Linked DNA regions of Homo sapiens. The protein of the gene in region 1 interacts with the protein of each later gene in a pairwise test. Each region holds a gene or a part of one and is shown in the gene's direction. Other genes may lie near its edges. The genes, in order: ARMC1 and MTFR1L.

Region 1 (7,653 bases):
GGAACAGACCAATGTCTATGTCAGCCTGTTTCTCATATAAGGCTTAATGACAGCCCCATTTGTTGAGACAGGTTGAATAATCTGCAAAGCTTACAAAGGATCTTTCCTGGAAGTTGAGACCCTTTTCCTCTAGTTCTGTTTTTTCTTTCCCCAGCTCTAATTGCCCCCTGGAGAAAATGTAACACACTGAAATAAGCTTCAGGAGGTTCTGCATTAGAATATAGGAATGGATGGTAAAAGATTATTGGGTAGGACGGTGAAGTGCCCTTCTGAAGGGTGCTTTGAGACACAGTGAGGCTAGATGTGTCTGGGAGAGGCTGGGCTACAGGAGAGCTGGTCAAGACCAGTTAGTGGGCCAACTTCATCTCACCTGAGGCAAGAGTCAGTGATGCATGCAGTGCCCATTGACTTCAAAGCTCCTTTAATTACTAATAAAAGCACATATTGGGCTGGGCGAGGTGGCTCACGCCTGTAAAATCCCAGCACTTTGGGAGGCCGAGGCGGGCAGATCACCTGAGGTCAGGAGTTTGAGACCAGCTTGGCCAATATGGTGAAACCCCATTCCTATTGAAAATGTAAAAAGTAGCCAGGTGTGGTGGTGCATGCCGTAATCCCAGCTACTCGGGAGGCTGAGGCAGTAGAATCACTTGAATCCAGAATGCAGAGGTTGCAGTAAGCCGTGATCACACCACTGCACTCCAGTGCACTCCAGCCTGGGCGACAGAGCAAGACTCCATCTCAAAGAAGAAAAAAAAAAAGCACATATTGTTGGGAAAAGATAACATTTTAATCTGCATTTATTATCTAAATCTCAATTTGAATGAATGTTTTTACCATGGTGCCCAATGAAAAATTGTTGAGCTATTTTGTTTCAGTCATAGACTTTGGGGCATATTTGGTTGTTCTGAGTCTTGAAACAGTTTAATTCTTCTTAGATCAGTGCATAGTGACCAGAAAAAAAAAAATCTATATCCAAATAGGTTAAAGGATCACCACTTTCCAGAGATTGTGGTATTCTTTTCTATAAACCAGCTCTTGGGATTGACCCTGACCTATAGAGCTGTTTTTCTTTTTTTGAGACAGAGTCTCGCTCTGCTACCCAGGCTGGAGTGCGATGGTGTGATCTCTGCTCACTGCAACCTCTGCCTCCCGGGTTCAAGTGATTCTCCTGCCTCAGCCTCCCAAGTAGCTGGGACTGCAGGCGTGTGCCACCATGCCTGGCTAATTTTTGTATTTTTAGCAGAGACGGGGTTTGGCCATTGTCGGCCAGGCTTGTCTGGAACTCCTGACCTCAAGTGATCCACCCACCTCGGCCTCCCAAAGTGCTGGAATTACAGGTGTGAGCCGCCACGCCTGGCCAGCTGCTTTTTAAAACAAGTCCAATGTATCCATTTTTTTTCTTGTTTAACTTTTGGGTTTCCAGTTTTGTTCAAGGTTTCCCTCTGCTTCTAGGTCATATATGTAGTCTTCAAGGTTTGAGTTTTTAATACACCTGGAATTTATTTTTTTGGTAAATGATGTAATATATGGATCCAATTTTATTTTCATCTGGATGGGTAGTGAGAGCTTCAATTTATAAATATTTCTCTTTCTTTAAAAATTTCTACTTTGACATTTTCAAAACTACATATTAATTTGATAGTACATGTATAGAATTTAGGAATAAATACATATAAATATGTCAGAGCTATGTACTCGAATACATATATATAAAGCTGAAAGTGTTGCCTGATCAAAAAGTTTTGAAATCCACTGTTTCTTGAGCTCTTTAGACCATGAGCTGCTTGAGGGCAGGGATTGTGATTTTCCTTACCTTTGAATCCATAGTCAAGATTGTCTATGGCACATTGTATGCGTTCAAAAACCGGTTGTTAAATAATTAAATGAATGAAACTGCCAGTATCTGAATCATGTCTTAAGCAACACAGCTACTGAGAAACGACATTCCAGTGTCCCGTGGGAAGATACCTGAGGCTAAGAACAAGCAATGACTCACAATGGGAGGTAGTATAACTTCACTGGTGTCAAGCTTAGACATTTTTTATTTTTTTGAGACGGAGTCTCGCTCTGTCGCCCAGGCTGGAGTGCAGTGGTGCGATCTCGGTTCACTGCAAGCTCCGCCTCCCGGGTTCACGCCATTCTCCTGCCTCAGCCTCCAGCTGGGACTACAGGCGCCTGCTACCACGACCGGCTAATTTTTTTTTTTTTTTGTATTTTTAGTAGAGACGGGGTTTCACCGTGTTAGCCAGGATGGTCTCCATCTCCTGATCTTGTGATCCGCCCGCCTCGGCCTCCCAAAGTGTTGGGATTACAGGCTTGAGCCACCACGCCCGGCCAAGTTTAGACATTTTAATATGGGAATACAGATTATTAAAATCTTTAAATACCTCCCTAAGGCTTATAATCCATAGGTGCTTAGGAAACTGGTAATTATTTTTTTGTGAACACACCCCCTGCTTCTTAATAGCAGTCATCTATTCTGTAATGGCAGTGTGCAGGAAGAATTACTTTTCTCAATAATGGCAGAAGCATGATTATATTTAGTATTTATTTATTTATTTATTTTGAGACGGAGACTCGCTCTGTCTCCCAGACTGGAGTGCAGTGGCACGACCTCGGCTTAGAACCTCCGCCTCATGGGTTCAAGCAATTCCCCTGCCTCAGCCTCCGGAGTAGCTGGGACTACAGGCGCCCGCCACCACGCCAGGCTAATTTTTTGTATTTTTAGTAGGGACGGCTGACCGGGCGCGGTGGCTCACGCCTGTAACCCCAGCACTTTGGGAGGCCGAGGCGGGCGGATCACCTGAGGTCAGGAGATAGAGGCCAGCCTGACCAACATGGAGAAACTCCGTCTCTACTAAAAATACAAAAATTAGCCGGGCGTGGTGGCGCATGCCTGTAATTAGGGAGGCGGAGGTTGCGGTGAGCCGAGATTGCGCCATTGTACTCCAGCCTGGGCAGGAAGATAGAAATTCTGTCTCAAAAAAAAAAAAAAAAAAAAAGTAGAGACGGGGTTTCACCATGTTGGCCAGGCTAGTCTCGAACTCCTGAACTCAGGTGATCCACCCACCTCGGCCTCCCAAAGTGCTGGGATTACAGGCGTGAGCCCCCGTACCTGCCTTCCTAATATATTAACGTTAACAAAAATAGCAAGTTTAATTTCCTGGGATTTTTTTTTAGTTGTTTTTAATAACTATACTGAAGAAAGTAACTCAACCAAATGGGTTATGTTTAACCTGGCTGTGCCCTTTGGACTTTTTTTTTTTTTTTTTTTAGACCGTCTCGCTCTGTTGCCCACGCTGGAGTGCAGTGGCGTGATCTCGGCTAACTGCAATCTCAGCCTCCCAGGTTCAATCGATTCTCCTGCCTCAGCCTCCCAAGTAGCTGGGATTACAGGCGCCCGCAACGACGCCTGGTTAGTTTTGTTTGTTTGTTGGTTGGTTTTTAGTAGAGACAGAGTTTCACCATGTTGGCCAAGCTGGTGTCGAAATCCTGACCTCAAGTGATCCGCCCACCTCGGCCTCCCAAAGTGCTGGGATTACACGCGTGAGCCACCGCACCCGGCCTATTTGTTTTCTACTTAGCTTATTTTGCTCCTATTTTGAGTTCATTGGAAGCAAGAGGATAACCGAGAACAAGGGAACGGAAAGAAATTCAAGAAGTAGCTGCTTGGTTTTTAAATTCAAGAAGTATAGGAGATATTAGCATTGAATACAATCTGGGATATTTATTGTTATCCACACTCTTTTCCTATTAGAGGCCTCTCATATTCCTTCTGACTTTAATACATGAGCTACGTGGCCGAATCAAACTGTTATGGAGAGAATCCAGAATCTGTTTATTGGGGTTATTGACTGCAATGGATACATTATTCTCAAAGATCTGCCTGCGGGTTAAGAGTAGGTTTGTATTTAAAGAAATTAAAAAAAAAATAAAATCTATGCCTAAACAAAAACTTCAAGTGATTGCCATCCATAAAACAAGTATATAAATCCTTACTTTGATAAACTACATAGAAGATATTTTAAAATATGAATTTGAGAAGATTGTGATAATAAATTCCTTACAAGAAAAAAAAAAAAACCTCTTCCCCAAAATAAATTGCTACTTAAACGAAAACTGTACTTTGCGTCTTTCAAGCTGCTAGGGAGACAGTGGACACCAAGAAGAAATAAACGAAAATCCAAGGAACGCCTAATGTAGTGCTAACGTCCACAGTAAAACACAAAACAAAAAAAATTTATGAATTAAGACTCACAGAAGCGAATAAAATATTAGGTATTGCCTTTATTAGAATTGCAAGAGTTGCTAAAGAAATACTCAATTTGAATTACCGAATGCAGGACCGGAGAAGTCCTGCTGGCCCCACAAAGCTGGGTATTGAGGTTGTGAAGGTGTGACAGTTTCCCAGCCGGAATCAAATTTCTTCGGTTAGGGCTTGGTGGACGGCGAGTAGTTAGGGCCAATATAGTGTTCCTGGGTCCTCATTGGATCAGTCCCTTGACTCTTAGTGTATTTCCCTAAACCACCTATGAGCGCTTCACTCTAAAAAGACCTTCACTGATTGGATACTTTATCCTCACGTTGGACTCATTATCAGCCAATAGGAGGGCATAAGCGACAGAGGCGTCAGGTCACCTGGGAAGAGTCTGCAGAGCCTTTGCCCGCCAGCGCCTTCGCTCTTTGGCTCCCTGAGTTAGTCCGGTTGCTTGCGATCGCCGCGGCCGGGGCTGCGAACCGAAGGGCTCGCTCCGCGCCGCCTGGGTCTCTACCTCATCCGTAGGTGTGGCCCTGATGGTGTGGCAGGCTCTGGACTCCTAAAGCTCTGGAGCGGTATGTGGGGTCCACGGGCGGCAGACAAAGCAGTGGAGCCGGGAAGGCCGCGGGAAGCGGCCCCTGTACCGAGGCAGCGAATCCGCCTGGGAGGGGCGCCCCGCCTGCCTCTTGTCAGATCCAGTAGTGGGTCCCAGTGAGGCGCTTTAGCACGCTCTACCCCCACGTGTCCCGTGAATCTGTTAGCTTTGCTCATTTCTTCTTTGTCCCCCCTCACATCTGACTTTTACTAACCCCAGTATTATTAATGGGTGTCATCTCATCTTTTCATCTCTCCAGGTTATTCTTTGGTAACTTTCTGTTAGTTTTGTGCACCTGCGTGTCTCCTAAGAGCGGAAAGACATAGTTGTGTTAGGCTTAATTCAAGAGAGACCAGTGTTCCCATTTTTATATTTAAGACTGTGTTTTGGGAGGGCGGGGGTAGGTATTCGTGCAGTTAGCAACTCCTTTCGTGATACTTAGTGCACTGAAGTGTCAGGGCAGTGCAGAAGGTACCTCCAACACCTGGCAGGACAGATGTCCCCACATGAGCAAGTAGTATTCTGGTTTGGTAATTGCTGGTGTTTGATTTTACCATTTCGCGTTCTTACTTTAATCTGATAACCGCTGAGGATTGTTATGTGAGATAACTGAGGCTCTAAGAACTTAACTTCTCAAAGTTACAGTTAACTCTTCGAGTAAGGGGAAAGTCAGATTTAATATCAATGCTTATGTTATTTTTATCAAAGCCCACCTAACTGAATAAGGATTTAGGTTAAACGTATTCCCTCTGCATCTCTTGGCATGTGAGAATTAAATCTTTGAATTGAATGGTGAATCTTGACTGTACGAGAAGGAAAAATCTTGCAGGCATCTGCCTAATTACAGGTGTCTCACATGTATCTTCTAACTGCTTGCTTCTCAGAGTGTGACAAGTAGCATAGGCCTCACCTGGAAGCTTGTTGGAAATGCGGAATCTCAGACTCTCCCACCTACTGAATCAGCATTTGCTTTTTAACAGGAACCTTTAACTGACCAGAGTGCTCATTAAACGATGAGAAGTATTCTTTGTCATAGAATGATTTGTTTGTCCAAGTTGAACTAAACAAGAGAAAGTAAAGGTATAAAAAGTCTTTTCACATTTTCATCATTTGTTAGTGAGGCTATGGTCTTTATTTTTTATTTTTTTTTTTGAGACGGAGTATCGCTCTGTCGCTCAGGCTGGAGTTCAGTGATGCGATCCCGGCTCACTGCAACCTCCGCCTCCCGGGTTCAAGCGATTCTCCTGCCTCAACCCCTGGAGTACCAGAGGCCTTGGCCTCCCGAAGTGCTGGGATTACAGGCGTGAGCCACTGTGCCCGGCGTCTTGTAGAGTTTTATTTTATTATTACTATTATTATTATTTTGAGACGGTATCTCGCTCTGTTGCCCAGGCTGGAGTGCAGTGGCACAATCTCGGCTCACTGCAAGTTCCGCCTCCCGGTTTCACGCCATTCTCCTGACCCAGCCTCCCGAGTAGCTGGGACTACAGGTGCCCCCCACCACGCCTGGCTAATATTTTGTATTTTTAGTAGAGACGGGGTTTTACTGTGTGAGCCAGGATGGTCTCAATCACCTGACCTCGTAATCCGCTCGCCTCGGCCTCCCAAATTTTATTATTATTATTATTATTTTGAGATGAGCTGTCACTCTGTCGAGCTCCCAGGCTCAGGTGATCCTCCCACCTCAGCTTTTGTATTTTTAGTAGAGATGGGGTTTTGCCATGTTGCCCAGGCTGGTCTTGAACTTCTAGGCTCAAGAGATCCACCCCCCTGGGCCTCCCAAAGTGCTTGGATTACCGGCCTGAGCCATGGTACCTGGCCATCTTACAGAGTTTTAGAGCTTAGCATTTTATTCATATGTTCATAGCCATGTTTAAAAGAGATGCATTTATACAGCAGCATAAAGTTTTAGTGGCTCTGCCACTGCCATCCAGCCTGGGCAACAGAGCGAGACCCTATCTTAAAAATAAAATAAAAATTATTTTGCACTTTGCCAAATTGGGCATATAGTGGGTAGGATAGACTGAATCCTGAAATATTCATTTAAAATCATTTTTTCCAACCTATGAAGATAGACTTTTTTTTTTTTTTTTTAAGAGACAGGGTCTTGCTATGTTGTCCATGCTGTAGTAAAGTGGCTGTTCACAGGCAAGATCATAGCACACTGTAGACTTGAACTCTGGCCTCAACCAGTCTCCTGCCTCAGCCTCCTGAGTTACTGCACCCAGCAAAGGCGGACATTTTTATCAAACAGCTTGAGTGTGTGAAGTTGATGAAATTAACACAGAAACATAATATGTATCTAATACATGATTGGGGTTAGAGTTGTAACTTTCGTTTATCTGTTTTCAGTTTCCTAACTGTTCTATTGCTATCTCATAAAATCTGCTTTGTGAACGCTGCAATCCACAGAAATATTGATCATTTAACAGAATTCAAGCAATGGCCAGGCGTGGTGGCTCACGCCTGTAATCCCAGCACTTTGGGAGGCCGAGGAGGGTGGGTCACCTGAGGTCAGGAGTTCAAGACCAGCCTGGCCAACACGGCGAAACCCCGTCTCTACTAAAAATAAAAAATTAGCCGGGCATGGTGGCAGGCACCTGTAGTCCCAGCTACTTGGGAGGTTGAGGCAGGAGAATTGCTTGAACCTGAGAGGCAGAGGTTGTGATAAGCCGAAATCGTACCACGCCACTCCAGCCTGGGTGACAGAGTGAGACCCTGTTCCCCCCCAAAAATTCAGGCAATGTGGTAGTTAGAAATGGATGTCAGAGTAACTTGTTATCATCAAGAATATCAAGGT
Region 2 (12,539 bases), on another chromosome or scaffold:
GGATGTGCAGACTTCATCAGGCTTCGGGACTGTCCCTGCCACTTCCTGGCTGCAAAGCCTCAAGCTGGTCTCTTACCCAGTCTAAGCCTCCGTTGTCCCCGTGTAGAAACAGGAATCGTGATGCAGGTGTTGGTCATCGGGGGCTGCGCAGCAGTGAGCATAGTCCTGAGGCAGAGTCAGCGCCTCCCTAGAAACACAGCCTGGAAGGGAAGGCTCACCTTGGACCATGGCGGCCAGTCCTGGGATGGAAGGGGAGGGAGGAGCCAGGCCTTGTGACAGAGACCAGGAGAGGGCCCTGAGCCAAGATTCAAGACCCCACCTCTCCCTAAGGGCCCCTTACCTAGCACTCAGCAAGTCTTCTCACTGGGGCCTCACAGCAGCTTTGGGAGATGGATGGTCATGAATACCCATTTTATAAACAAGGAGGCCCAGAAAGTTGAGAGACTGGACAAATGTTGCAGTCAATTAAGTGCAGCTGGCTTTGAACCGAGGCCTGCCCTTGAGCCTCAGATCTCCAGCTCTTCTGATCAAAGCGACCCCTCATCCTTTAAGTCCCAAGGCATGGTTAGTGTGGGACCCAGGGCTGTAGGAGGGGGCCGGCTTCCTCAGGATCTTAGGATGGGAGCAGTTCAGGAGCAGGGGCTGTCACGGGAGAGGTGTCCAGTGAGGGTTTGGTGTAAAGGAAAGGGCACCAGGCGGAAGGCATCTGCTGTCCCAGGCGCAAGGGTGATGAGATGGTGTCGGGGAACTGGATGAGGCTGGGCCTGGTTGGGAGAACCAGGCCTCCCATTCATATGAATGTTGATTGAATGCTGATTCATTCATTTGTTCATCTACTGGGCACCTACTGTGTGCCAGGCACAAAGATAAAGACACAGCCCCGTGCTGAAGGAGCTCAGTCTCTGGAGCGAGAGGCCAAAGGAGAGGCCCATTGAATGTGAGGCTGCAGTGAGAGAAGGGAGCACGGAGTTCAGGATGGGAGTCCGGGGTCACAGGAACAGAGGAGAGGGGTCATTTCGGGGGGCGGGGGCAGAGGGCTAGTAGAAGAGGTGATGTTGGAAGGTGTTGGGTTTTCACTTGGTAGGCAAGGCAGGGAGGAGCCCCCTCGTCAGACACAGGGTGATGAGATGGTGTCGGGTGCTGGCGAGGGCTTACGGCAGCACTGCCTGCCCACCATCCACCTCAGACAAGGACAGTCAAGGCCTGATAGCATCCCTGCTTCTCCCCATAGAAGAGAGGGCACAGGGAGCCTGGGGGCCCCCCTCCGCCCCACTTGCCTCACCCGGCCCTTCTCCCAGGTCCATCACATCAATGCCAACTACTTCTTGGACATCACCTCCGTGAAGCCCGAGGAAATCGAGAGCAATCTCTTCAGCTTCTCATCCACCTTTGAAGACCCGTCCACGGCCACCTACATGCAGTTCCTGAAGGAGGGACTCCGGCGTGGCCTGCCCCTCCTCCAGCCCTAGAGTGCCTGGACGGGATCTGATGCACAGGCCCCCACGCCTCAGAGCCAGAGTGGTCCTCAGCCCATTTCAGACTGCAGATGCCGCCCACTCCCACCCCACTCCTAGGCTGCCTTGGAGGGTACAAGATCCACTGAGGGTGGCCACCACAGCCTTGGCTCCATGGTGGCGGGTAGACAAGGGATGCCTGGGCTGACTGGGCAGAGGAACCTCTAGCTCTGACTGTCACTCGGCTCTCCCTACCCATTTGGCTCTGGAAGCTGCTTGGCCCCCCCAGATCAGGGCCTGGGTGAACTCCCTGGACCTTTCCTAGCCAGCCGCACAGTCTAGGCCCTTGTGGGGTGAAGAATGGAGGGAGGAGCAGGCTAGGAAGACGGGGCCACCACCCTCTCCTTGCTTTCAGCCCTTCCCACAGGAAACATCAAGAAGCCCCAGCCAGGAGGGGCCAGGCTGCCAAGGCGGCTCCCCTGTTTATCTAGAGCCTTCGTTCCTGGCCATACCCCGGACTGCCCTCCTGTGCCTGATGTCCCCAGCTGGGGTCAGTCTCAACAGGAGCCAGTCTTCTGGAGCCTCTGGGCAGAACCCTCCATCAGAGTGGAAATCAGACGGGACCCCCTGCAGCTTCCCTGACCACGCCACTGACCAGCTATCTGGGGAAGTTTACTGTGAAGGGGTTTCTGCCTTTAGCAATGGGGTTCACTAAGGGGGTTCCCGAGGCCCAGGGCCAAGGCACTCCCACCGCCTACCTTAGCACAGGGTCTCTGCAGGACTGCGGGAGCCAGCGCTCCTGCCGCCCCTCTTGCCCCTCAGACCTTGCATCCACAGAAGCACAACCCAGCCAAACACCACAGCCTTCTCCAGAGCCGGCACTGTCCCGGCAACCAGGGGTGCCCCAGGCTAGCTCTTCTACCTCTGGGGCACCACGGACTCCCCTTGGCCACTCTTGGGACTTTGGTCCACGTCCTGAGCCACTGACCACGGCCAGTCTCTCTTTTTATATGTGCAGAAAAGTGTTTTTACACAAACTTTCTCATGGTTTGTAGGTATTTTTTTATAACCCCAGTGCTGAGGAGAAAGGAGGGGCAGTGGCTTCCCCGGCAGCAGCCCCATGATGGCTGAATCCGAAATCCTCGATGGGTCCAGCTTGATGTCTTTGCAGCTGCACCTATGGGAAGAAGTAGTCCTCTCTTCCTTCTCCTCTTCAGCTTTTTAAAAACAGTCCTCAGAGGATCCATGATCCCCAGCACTGTCCCATCCTCCACAAAGGCCCACAGGCATGCCTGTACTCTCTTTCATTAAGGTCTTGAAGTCAGGCTGCCCCCTCCCCAGCCCCCAGTTCTCTCCCCACCCCCTCACCCCACCCGGGGCTCACTCAGCCTGGCAGAGGAAGAAGGAAGGCAGACATCTCCGCAGCCACTCCTGGGCCTTTTATGTGCCGAGTTACCCCACTTGCCTTGGGCGTGTCCACTGAGCCTTCCCCAGCCAGTCTTGTTCTCAATTTTGTTTTGTTTTGTTTTGAGACGGAGTCTTGCTCTGTCACCCAGGCTGGAGTGCTATGGCTCGATCTTGGCTCACTGCAACCTCCACCTCCCAGGTTCAAGCAATTCTCTTGCCTCAGCCTCCCGAGTAGCTGGGATTACAGGTGCATGCCACCATGGCTGGCTAATTTTTGTATTTTTAGTAGAGATGGGGTTTCACCATATTGGTCAGGCTGATCTGGAACTTCTGACCTCAGGTGATCCACCTGCCTCAGCCTCCCAAAGTGCTGGGATTACAGGCGTGAGCAATCGTGCCCAGCCTTGTTCTTAATTTTGTATCATCCAGTCATCGCTAATATTACACGCACCTTCTCACTTAATCCTCACGACAAGCCTGTGAGGCAGATGCTCATTGTTCCCATCTTGATGAAACTTGAGTCTCAGGGAAGTGAAGTGACTTGCCCAGGGTCACTCAGGTAGAGTTGAGATTCAAACCCACATGTGGCTCCAAAGTCTGCATCTGGATTTGGGGGTGTTTTTTGGCATGGCACCCTCACCTCTCTCCCTGCCTGTTTTCCCCAAAGTGGAAAGGAAGGCCTTTCAAACCAGAGTGTCTCACTCCCCTCTGACCTCCAGACCAGATGGGGCATGAGCCAGCCAGCTCAGCCAGGCTCCCTGTGTCCTGGGAGGAAGTGTCCCCATCCCCCATGCCCCTTATGGGGAGGGAGGGCGTCTGATGCTCTCTCTCTGCCTCCCCCCCCATCCTGTCAGGCACAGGTGACGGGGGCAGCCCATGCGAGCCCTTCTCCTGCTGCTCTGGGAGGGCCAGTTCCACATTGAGCCAGCCTGGTCCCATGGAAAATGATGGCCTGGGCTTTCTGAGGCCTTATCTGATGCCTCTGCAGTTCATGTCCCCCACCAGGCCTCGAGGCTCAGGGTGGGAGAGGGCCCCGGGCTGCCCTGTCACTCCTCTAACACTTCCCTCCCCTGTCCCCAACATGCCCTGTAATAAAATTAGAGAAGACTAACTAGAGTGGTTCTAAGTGCTTTTCCTTTGAGTGGCATGTTGCTCAGCTCCGTCCTTCCATGGGGTGGCTCCCTCTTGGGGCAGAGTTGAGCTGGAATGCTTTCAGGTACTATCTTACCTATCGAAGGCTTGAGTGACTTGCCCAAAATAAGTTTTACGATAGAACAAGTGGTAGGACTTACTGTTTTGAGAATCTGGTGCTCTCTGTTGAGAGAGATCTGGGAGTTAAAATCATTGTCTTAAAAGCAGAGCCTGAGACAGGCATGAAGTGTTTTTTTGTTTGTTTGTTTTGTTTGTTTGGTGGGGCTGGGGGGGAGTGTACTTCCAGAAAAACCAGTAAAAGAAGGAAGGAAGCAGAAGAGGGAAAGGAAAAATGCTGAGCAGGAACAGTCTCAGCCCAGCCTTGGCCTGACCCACAGTGGAAGAGCTGTGGGGCATAAACCACACTGCAGAGCTGAACTGGCCTTTTGGACCTTTTATCAGTCATTGGCTTGGGAGGTGAAGGAAATTCCCAGGTAGGGAGCTCCGTTCTTCCTGCAAGGGGATCTGAGTGGGACACCAAATCAGCATCTACACCCAGGACAGACAGCCAGCGTGGACTTGCATGATCCGCCATCGCACAGGAGGGAAAGGTAATGATTAAAACACAATGTGCCATCCTGGGAAGAGGGCCAGACCTGGAAGTCAATCTTCAGCGTTTGAGATATGGTGGAGATCAGGGTGGACGACCTCTGAGGTCTCTAGCCAGGACCAGTCACATAATTTGCACAGCCCCGTGCAAAATGAAAACACAAGAACCCCTATTAGAAAATCATTTCAAGACGGCAACAGCAAAGTACTAAACCAAGTACAGGATTCTGAGCATGCGGCCCGTTGTGACTGCATGGGCTGTTCACCCATGAAACCAGCTCTGTCTCTGGCAGAGGGGACTGCAGGCTTTGGAACCAAGGAACTCCAGCCTGGGAGCCAGGCACAGCCCGAGGCTGTGCTGAAGGCAGAGAAGGAAATGTGACCCAGGAACTGCATGCCACAGACCAAGACAGTGAGGGCTGGAGCACAAAGAGGGAGTGGGTTAGTGAGCCTGGAAGGAATGTGGCTCTTCCCACAGAGCCTCTGGAGTCTTGTACATCAAGTACCCATCTAATAAGCAAACTCATTGAATATACCGTGTGTGTGTGTGTGTGTGTGTGTGTGTGTGTGTGTGTGTGTGAGAGAGAGAGAGAGAGGCTAAAATAGAAGAAAGCTGCAAAGTGCTGGAGGGCAGGAGTCAAGAGGAGAAAGAGGCCCATTCTGCGCATTCTTGCTGGAGAGAGGCTTTGCAAAGGGACCTGCCTGGGAACCAAGAACTGGGAAGGGGGCCAGGGTGAGGATTCTGAAGTTTGCCCTAGGGGTAGGAGCATATTTTAGGGGTCGAGCGACACACCCCTGGGCTTCCAGAAGTCGGATGGGGCTAAACGTGGAGAGCAACAAGCAGGGAGACGCGACGAATACCAGGCCGAGGGATCTCCAAACGCAGCCAACTCCTCCCGGGGACACAGACCCCGCGGGGGCACGGTCTCGATGGAGGGGAGTGTGCTCCGCGGTATCGGAGCCTACAGCCGCCAGCGCCTCGCCCACTCGGGGGCCGCGCTCCCCTCGCCACCGAGCTGGACCCGCCTCCTGAGGGTGCGCGGAGGTGCGCCTCGGTGCGCAGCTGCGGAGGATCGCTTCCGGGGGGCGGGTCAGCGGAAGTGAGGGCGGTTGAGGCTGGGCGGCCCAAGGTGGAAGGAGGGGCCGTGAGGTGAGAGAGTCCGGGAGCCCGAGCTTGAGGTGAGAAAGGTTCTAGGGAGGCGCGGAGGCGGGAGCGCGACCTTCCAGCCCGTTAGTAGACTGGGTCTACGTGCCGGGCGCTGTGCGGAGCCCGCAGCTCCTGTTCCCGCGCGAGTTCTCGCGGGAGCCGCAGCTGTCCGTCTCACTTGGCCCGGGGGAAACTGAGTCCCCGAAGGGTAGTTGCTCGTCGGAGTTCCCCAGCAAACAGTGACCAAGCCAGACCTCAGGCTTCTAGTTTCGGCTTCGCTGCTTGACGGGCCGGGCTGCCCCGCCGCGCATTCTGAGACCTGGCCGCGGCTCGGAGGCTTCCGCGCACTCGGGTCCGGGTCCTGTGGGTCCAAGGGCCGCTGGGCAGGCGGCGAGCACTTGGCCGACCTTGGCCCAGGTCGGGTCGTCTGCCGCGGGGGAGGGGCGACTCGCCCTGGCGGGTCCCCGCGGGGAGAGGGTCCGCGCGGGTCTCCGGCCACTGCTGCGCGCGGCAAAGTTTCACTGAGCGCGGCGGCCTCCGTGGGGGCCCCCGGGACCAGGGGTGCTGAGCAGGGCCCTGCGCTGGAGGAGCTCCCGTTCTCCTGAGGGGACGCCTGTCAGCAGACAGCAACTGCAGCCTCCGGAGGGCTGCGGGGCGCAGAGGTGACAAGACCCACCGGTGCTGCCGGCGAACCGGGGGAAGATCTTCTAGCCAGTGACACTTGGGGGCGGGGGTGACAGCTGAGTTGGTGTTCCCCTTCATTCGTTTAGTTCAGCGCGTTGAAGCGCTCACTGTGTCCTAGGCAGACACCGTGCTGTGCGCGGGGATCACAGTTATCTAGTTCCTCTCGCGAGGACTCCGAGGGACAGGCAGGGTGCTGCGGAGCGCACAGGAAAGGACCTGACCCTGTCGCAGGGAAGGAAGGTGATGCTTAAGCTGAGCTCTGAGGAATGATGAAGAATGAGCTCGGCGAAGGGGGTGCTGGTGTTTGATGCAGGGCTCAGAGGTGGGCCCAGTGTTGGGGGTTGAGGGCCAGTGTGGCTGGAGGGCAAGGGGGAGAGCAGGAGGGCTGGCTGCGAAGCGTGCAGGCCTTGGTGCTCAGTGAATGTGGTCTAGAGACGGCAGAGAAAGATGGGTTTGGGACTGATTGTGGATTTTATCCTGTGTTGGCTCTAGTAAGCCAGTTTTAAACGGATGAGCGATGTGATTAACTGTGTTTGGGAAGGATTCCTCTGGCTGTGTGTGAGGGTTAGGCCCGGCTGGGTCTTTGGAGGTAAGGTCGGAGAGGAAGTGGCAGTAAGCACCGTTAGTGCAATTTGTGGCCGACACGGACATTCAGCACAGAGCCTGGCACACAGAGGGACTCTGATAATAAAGGCTTGAACTGAGCCGAGAAGATGGAGCCCACGCAGGAGGTGGCAGGACCTGGACCAGGCTTTGGGTGCTTTGCACTGGCATGACCACTGAGTGACCTTAGACAAGTGCCTTCCCCTGTCCAACTTCCTTTCCCCATGTGTATCGTGAAGTGAATGACACCTCGTCTCCCAAGGGTAGAAGAGGGGACCCTCCACAGGAGGTCTCCAGAAAGAGCTGCTTTGTCAGTCTAGTCTATCTCCCATTCAGAGCCTGTCCAGGGCTCCCCAGTGACCCGGACCTCATGACTTGCCCCCTACTTTTGTAGCTTTATCATGCTCTGCTCCTCTTTCCATGTCCTTCACCTTCTTGTGCTGGACCTGTGCTCTTGCTGTTTTGTCTTCATTTCCTACTCCCTCGCAACTTACTACAGGGCACTAGGGCCAGAGCTCTGACCTCATCTGGCCACCTGCCTAATGCTACTCAGCCTTTGCTAGAAGTATGTATTCATGTCCTATCACTCTGCTGGACAGCGAGTTCCTTGAGAGCATGACTGTGTCTTACTCCTTCCATAGCCCCTACGGTGCCCAGCACAAGGCCTGGCACAAGTGGGTACTGTTGGTGTTTGATGAACAAGTGAATGAACGAGCACACTGATTGCATCTGCTCACCATGCAAGGACTGCTGTGAAGAGCAGTCAGATGTCACCTCACCCATCTGTGTCATGTTTTAACAGTTCATTAAGCACTCAACCCCATTTCACTCATTGACCCTTAAGGTAGCCTCCAGTGGCAGCTTTTCCTGTCTCCTTTTTCCAGATGGAAAAACCAACATTCAGAAAAGTTAAATAACTTGCCTGTAGCTACAAAGCCAGAAGGTGGCTGAGCCAGGATAAACTTTTTTGGCTCTTTTTCTCTGTAGCTCATGAGACTGAGATTGGCATGAGCTGGTGTTCGTTCTCCTATTTTCTCTGATCTCTCCCTTTGCAAGGGCCCAGCAGTGCTTTTACATCTCATCTTCAAGAATGAATCCTGGGCTTGGATAGTACTTATAATTTGGCTAGATGAGCTTTGTAGCTACCAAGGATTCTATTTGCATCTTTAGAAGTTTTGCCTCAAGAAACCTGAGAGCCCAGGAAGGCTCTTGGGTTGGCCAAGCTCACTAGGCAAATCTTTTTTTTTTTTTTTTTTTTTTGAGACGGAGTCTCGCTCTGTCACCCAGGTTGGAGTGCAGTGGCGTGATCTCGGCTCACTGCAAGCTCTGCCTCCTGGGTTCACGCCATTCTCCTGCCTCAGCCTCCCAAGTAGCTGGTACTACAGGTGCCCGCCACCACACCTGGCTAATTTTTTGTATTTTTAGTAGAGACAGGGCTTCACTGTGTTAGCCAGGATGGTCTCGCTCTCCTGACCTCGTGATCCGCCCACCTCGGCCTCCCAAAGTGCTGGGATTACAGATGTGAGCCACTGCGCCTGGCCGCAGATCTTTAACAGAACCTTTAAGAGTCTGGACTTAGAGCTAAGTGTTGGGTGAGGGCAGCCTCTTGGGCTGGTTTTCTCCCCTGTGAAGTCATGGCTCTGCAGGGCCTGGTTTTTTGGGGCTTGTGTGGTGACCATTAAATCCCCACTGTGGGGGGTTGTTTCACAAGAGGGAAATCTGGTGCTCCTCCAGATGGCCTGATATGAAGGAGTCACGCCTCCCGCCTCCCGGAGCTGCCCAGTGGCTGCCTTGTCCTTCAAGTGCAGGAGCTGGTTCAAATGTCAGGAATGGAAGCCACTGTGGTAAGGGGCATTCCCAGGGCAGGGGTATGGTGGGGAAGGTTGGGTGCTGGGCCTGCTGAAGTACTGTAAAAGGTTCTGAGACTCTCCAGTTGAGCACTCCTTTCTCCAGAGGCCTGGAATTGGAGCAAGGCCACCGTTTCACTCCCTCCCCCTAAGAAGAACCAACTATGATCCTGGGGCACTTCAGGAGTCAGTGTATGTCTGCCTTTCTGTACAGAGGACGGGAAGGAAAGCCTGGATAATCTCTACACTCAGCTACTTCCTCTCCCCTTCCCTGACCCTCCCAACATTGACTGCCTTAGCAGCAGCAGGTATTCCCTTGGGTGGCTGGCCAGGGTGTAGGCTGGCAACTGGGGAACCTGCCCTCACTATAATTGAGAGTTGACTTGCCCCTAGAGAGTGCCCTGTCCCTAGGTTTGTGGAATTCAGTCTCCACAAACCTAGAGAGGAGAGGACAAGGACAGTAGTTGGATTCATTCTCTGGGGTTGTAGCTGTCTCCGTCTCTTTGCTCCAGACCATCCCAATCTGGCAAAACAAGCCACATGGGGCTGCTCGAAGTGTAGTAAGAAGAATTGGGACCAACCTACCCTTGAAGCCGTGTGCCCGGGCGTCCTTTGAGGTGAGTATGTTGGAAGGGCAGGAGAGTAGAGGCTCAGACAGTGCTGCTTCTGTGCCCCAAACCCCTTGGTACTGCCCAAGTAGGTTGTTTCCTGGTCACTTTTCATTCTGTTATGAAATATTTGTTAAATGCTTATAAGATATCCTGGTCACTGTGTCCTCCTGAGTGCATACAAACCTGTGACCACAAGGAACCTGACAGGTCCCCCACATGGGACACTGACTATTGTGATTTTTGAGTTGAACTCTGCTTTTCTTCACCAGCCCTAAGAATTGACCATGTAGCCAGTATTTTTATTTTATTATTTTTTGAGATGAGGTCTCCCTATGTTGCCCAGGCTAGGTCTTAAACTCCTGGGCTCAAGCAGTCCTCCTGCCTCAGCCTCCTATGTAGCTGGGATTACAGGCACAAGCCACCATGCCCAGCTCCACTATTTTTAGTGTTTCTCTGAGGCCATAATTCCTCAGCCTTCTCTTTTTGGCCAATCTGGGCATCCTTTACTGGGGTGCTTTGGTCTTACCTCTGTGTCTAGGGATCCTTTAGCACCCACTCAGCAGCAGAGATTCCTACCTGGCCCAGGTCTCTTGAGACCCCTTCTGTGGTAGAAAGCTAAGTAGCATTTATTAGTCCCAGCTGCCTCCCTCTAGGAACTAAATGGTTAAGCACCAGCCCCAAACTATATGGTTCAGATGTGTGCATTTGGAGAGCTGGGATACAAAAGAAATACTTGTGCTTTCTACCCACACAGAGGAGATAGAAATATGTGCATGAAAGGATGTGGGCCCAGGTAGAAACAGAAATGAAGGAGCCAAATCTGTATAAAAGATGCTAAGAAGCAGAGTCTGTAGGAACTGGATCTGGAATTAGAAGAGGTGTCAGGGTTGGTATTAGGGTCAGGAATGGAGTTGGAAGTGTCGCAGGGGTAGGGGGCAGGAAAAGCTGTCCCAGTATTCAGATTGCCAGCTATCCAGAATTGTCTAAAGATCCTGGGCAGGAACTGGTCCTAACTTGCCTCAGAAGCATCAGAAAAAAAAAAGGGAGACAGCTAGGGAGTGTGGCTCACTGCATAGAGGCCGTCCCCACACTTGGCTATACCCTCTTCAGTTCTTTGGCCAGATGCTGGGCAGAGACAATCAAGGGCACAGGCTCTCACAGAGCAGGAATGTATGTGAGCAGTATTGGTAATACTAGATAACATTTACTGAGCACATACTATGTGTCAGGCACTGTGCTGTACTTTATATTTGTTTACTCATTTAATTGCCAAGAGCAAAGGAGCATTCAGGGCTAATCAGGAAAACAAATGGAGGCTTCCCCCAAATGCCCTATTTTAGCACTAGTTCCTGGGTCACTGGAAGTTCTTCTCTGTGTGACCTTGGAGTATCACTTAACTCCTGTGAGTCCCAGGTTTCCTATCTAAATGCAGGAGCGATCAATCCTGGATCCATCTACCATACCAAATAATTTGTAGCAGAAACAGTTGAATCTTACTTGTGTGTAAATATGCATTTATTATTATTATTAAATTACCTTAAATATTATTTAAGGGACTCTTACCAATTTATTTTGAAAATTTAAGCATATGAAAATATTAAAATTATGAAAAGTAAAAGGAAAATAAATTACCTATAATTACATAGTAATAATACAATAACTATTAATGTCTTAGTGTAGTCCTCTTTTTCTAGATGGATGTTTTTTACTTTGTTGTAATCACAGTCAACATGACTGAATCCTAATTTTTCACTTTACTCAACATCTCTAGGTTGAGGAGCTATTTTAAGAAATCCTATTATGGTTCCTTTTGTATAATCATTTATTTTTATTTAAATCTAAATATATTCAAATTTTCAGGTTTGTTTAAAACAGCATTGCTGTAACAATGTAGATCTCAATTAGCTATACAGGATTATAAAAAGCTAGTCAGGAAAAATTTCCTATTGCTGTAACAGGTTGTGGATGACCTTGTACTTGTATTTTCACCAGAGGGCACAGTGGTTTTAGACAGTTGCCATCTCTACTAAAAGGTGACTCAGGCCTTTTCCACTGAAGACACAGAACTGTTTGTAATCCCATAGACTCTCATGTGTCTTGCCTGTTTTTGTTTTTGAATGTGGCTCTGTTGTCCACGCTAGAGTACAGTGGTGCAATCTCAGCTCACTGCAACCTCTGCCTCCCAGGTTCAAGCCATCTTCCCACCTCAGTCTCCTGAATAGCTGGGACTACAGGCGTATACCACCATACCCAGATAATTTTTGTATTTTTTGGTAGAGGCAGGGTTTTGCCATGTTGCCCAGGCTGATCTCAAACTCTTGGTCTCAAGCATTCTGCCTGCCTCGGCCTCCCAAATGCTGGGATTACAGGTGTGAGCCACCATGCCTGACTGTCATCTGGCCTCTGTTCAATGTTTTCGACCAGGAACCTTCTTCTGCCCCCTCTAGGAAGCCTTCCTGACACCCAGTGCCGGATTAGGTACCCCTCCTGTGTATTCTGCAGTTTCTGATTGGCTCATCATGGCATCTGTAAATGTTGATGACTTTTGCTTCTCCATAGACCCTGCCCAACATCTCTGACCTGTGTTTGAGAGATGTGCCCCCAGTCCCTACCCTGGCTGACATCGCCTGGATTGCTGCGGATGAAGAGGAGACATATGCCCGGGTCAGGTAGTTGAGGCAGTAGCTGGTCTGCTAAGGAATGGAGAACTTCCCAGAAGAGGTGGCAGGCAGCAAGGAGAGAGGAATGAGAACTGTGGGCTCAGAGAGGAGCAGAACCTTACTATACTACTCTCACAGAAGTGGGGGAAGGAACCTTAGGAGCACAGTGGCCTGCTGTCTCTAACTGATCTACTTGGTTTTCCCTGGTCCAGGAGTGATACGCGCCCCCTGAGGCACACCTGGAAACCCAGCCCTCTGATTGTCATGCAGCGCAATGCCTCTGTTCCCAACCTGCGTGGGTCCGAGGAGAGGCTTCTGGCCCTGAAGAAGCCAGCTCTGCCAGCCCTAAGCCGCACTACTGAGCTGCAGGACGAGCTGAGCCACTT

The links.
Region 2: the proteins of ARMC1 (region 1) and MTFR1L interact in binary tests that used the Homo sapiens proteins (3 or more experiments, as listed by UniProt).

What each region holds. Positions count from the first base shown.
Region 1 is NC_000008.11:65,631,178-65,638,830, reverse strand, and holds the start of ARMC1 (armadillo repeat-containing protein 1), read left to right. Parts: upstream 1-4,653; 5' UTR 4,654-4,833; intron 4,834-4,905; exon of another isoform or gene 4,906-5,933; intron 5,934-7,653.
Region 2 is NC_000001.11:25,814,250-25,826,788, forward strand, and holds the start of MTFR1L (mitochondrial fission regulator 1-like), read left to right. Parts: upstream 1-5,704; 5' UTR 5,705-5,780; exon of another isoform or gene 5,781-8,769; 5' UTR 8,770-8,855; coding exon 8,856-8,879; exon of another isoform or gene 8,880-9,357; intron 9,358-9,394; coding exon 9,395-9,499; intron 9,500-12,052; coding exon 12,053-12,162; intron 12,163-12,365; coding exon 12,366-12,539. UniProt on the Homo sapiens protein: Mitochondrial protein required for adaptation of miochondrial dynamics to metabolic changes. Regulates mitochondrial morphology at steady state and mediates AMPK-dependent stress-induced mitochondrial fragmentation via the control of OPA1 levels.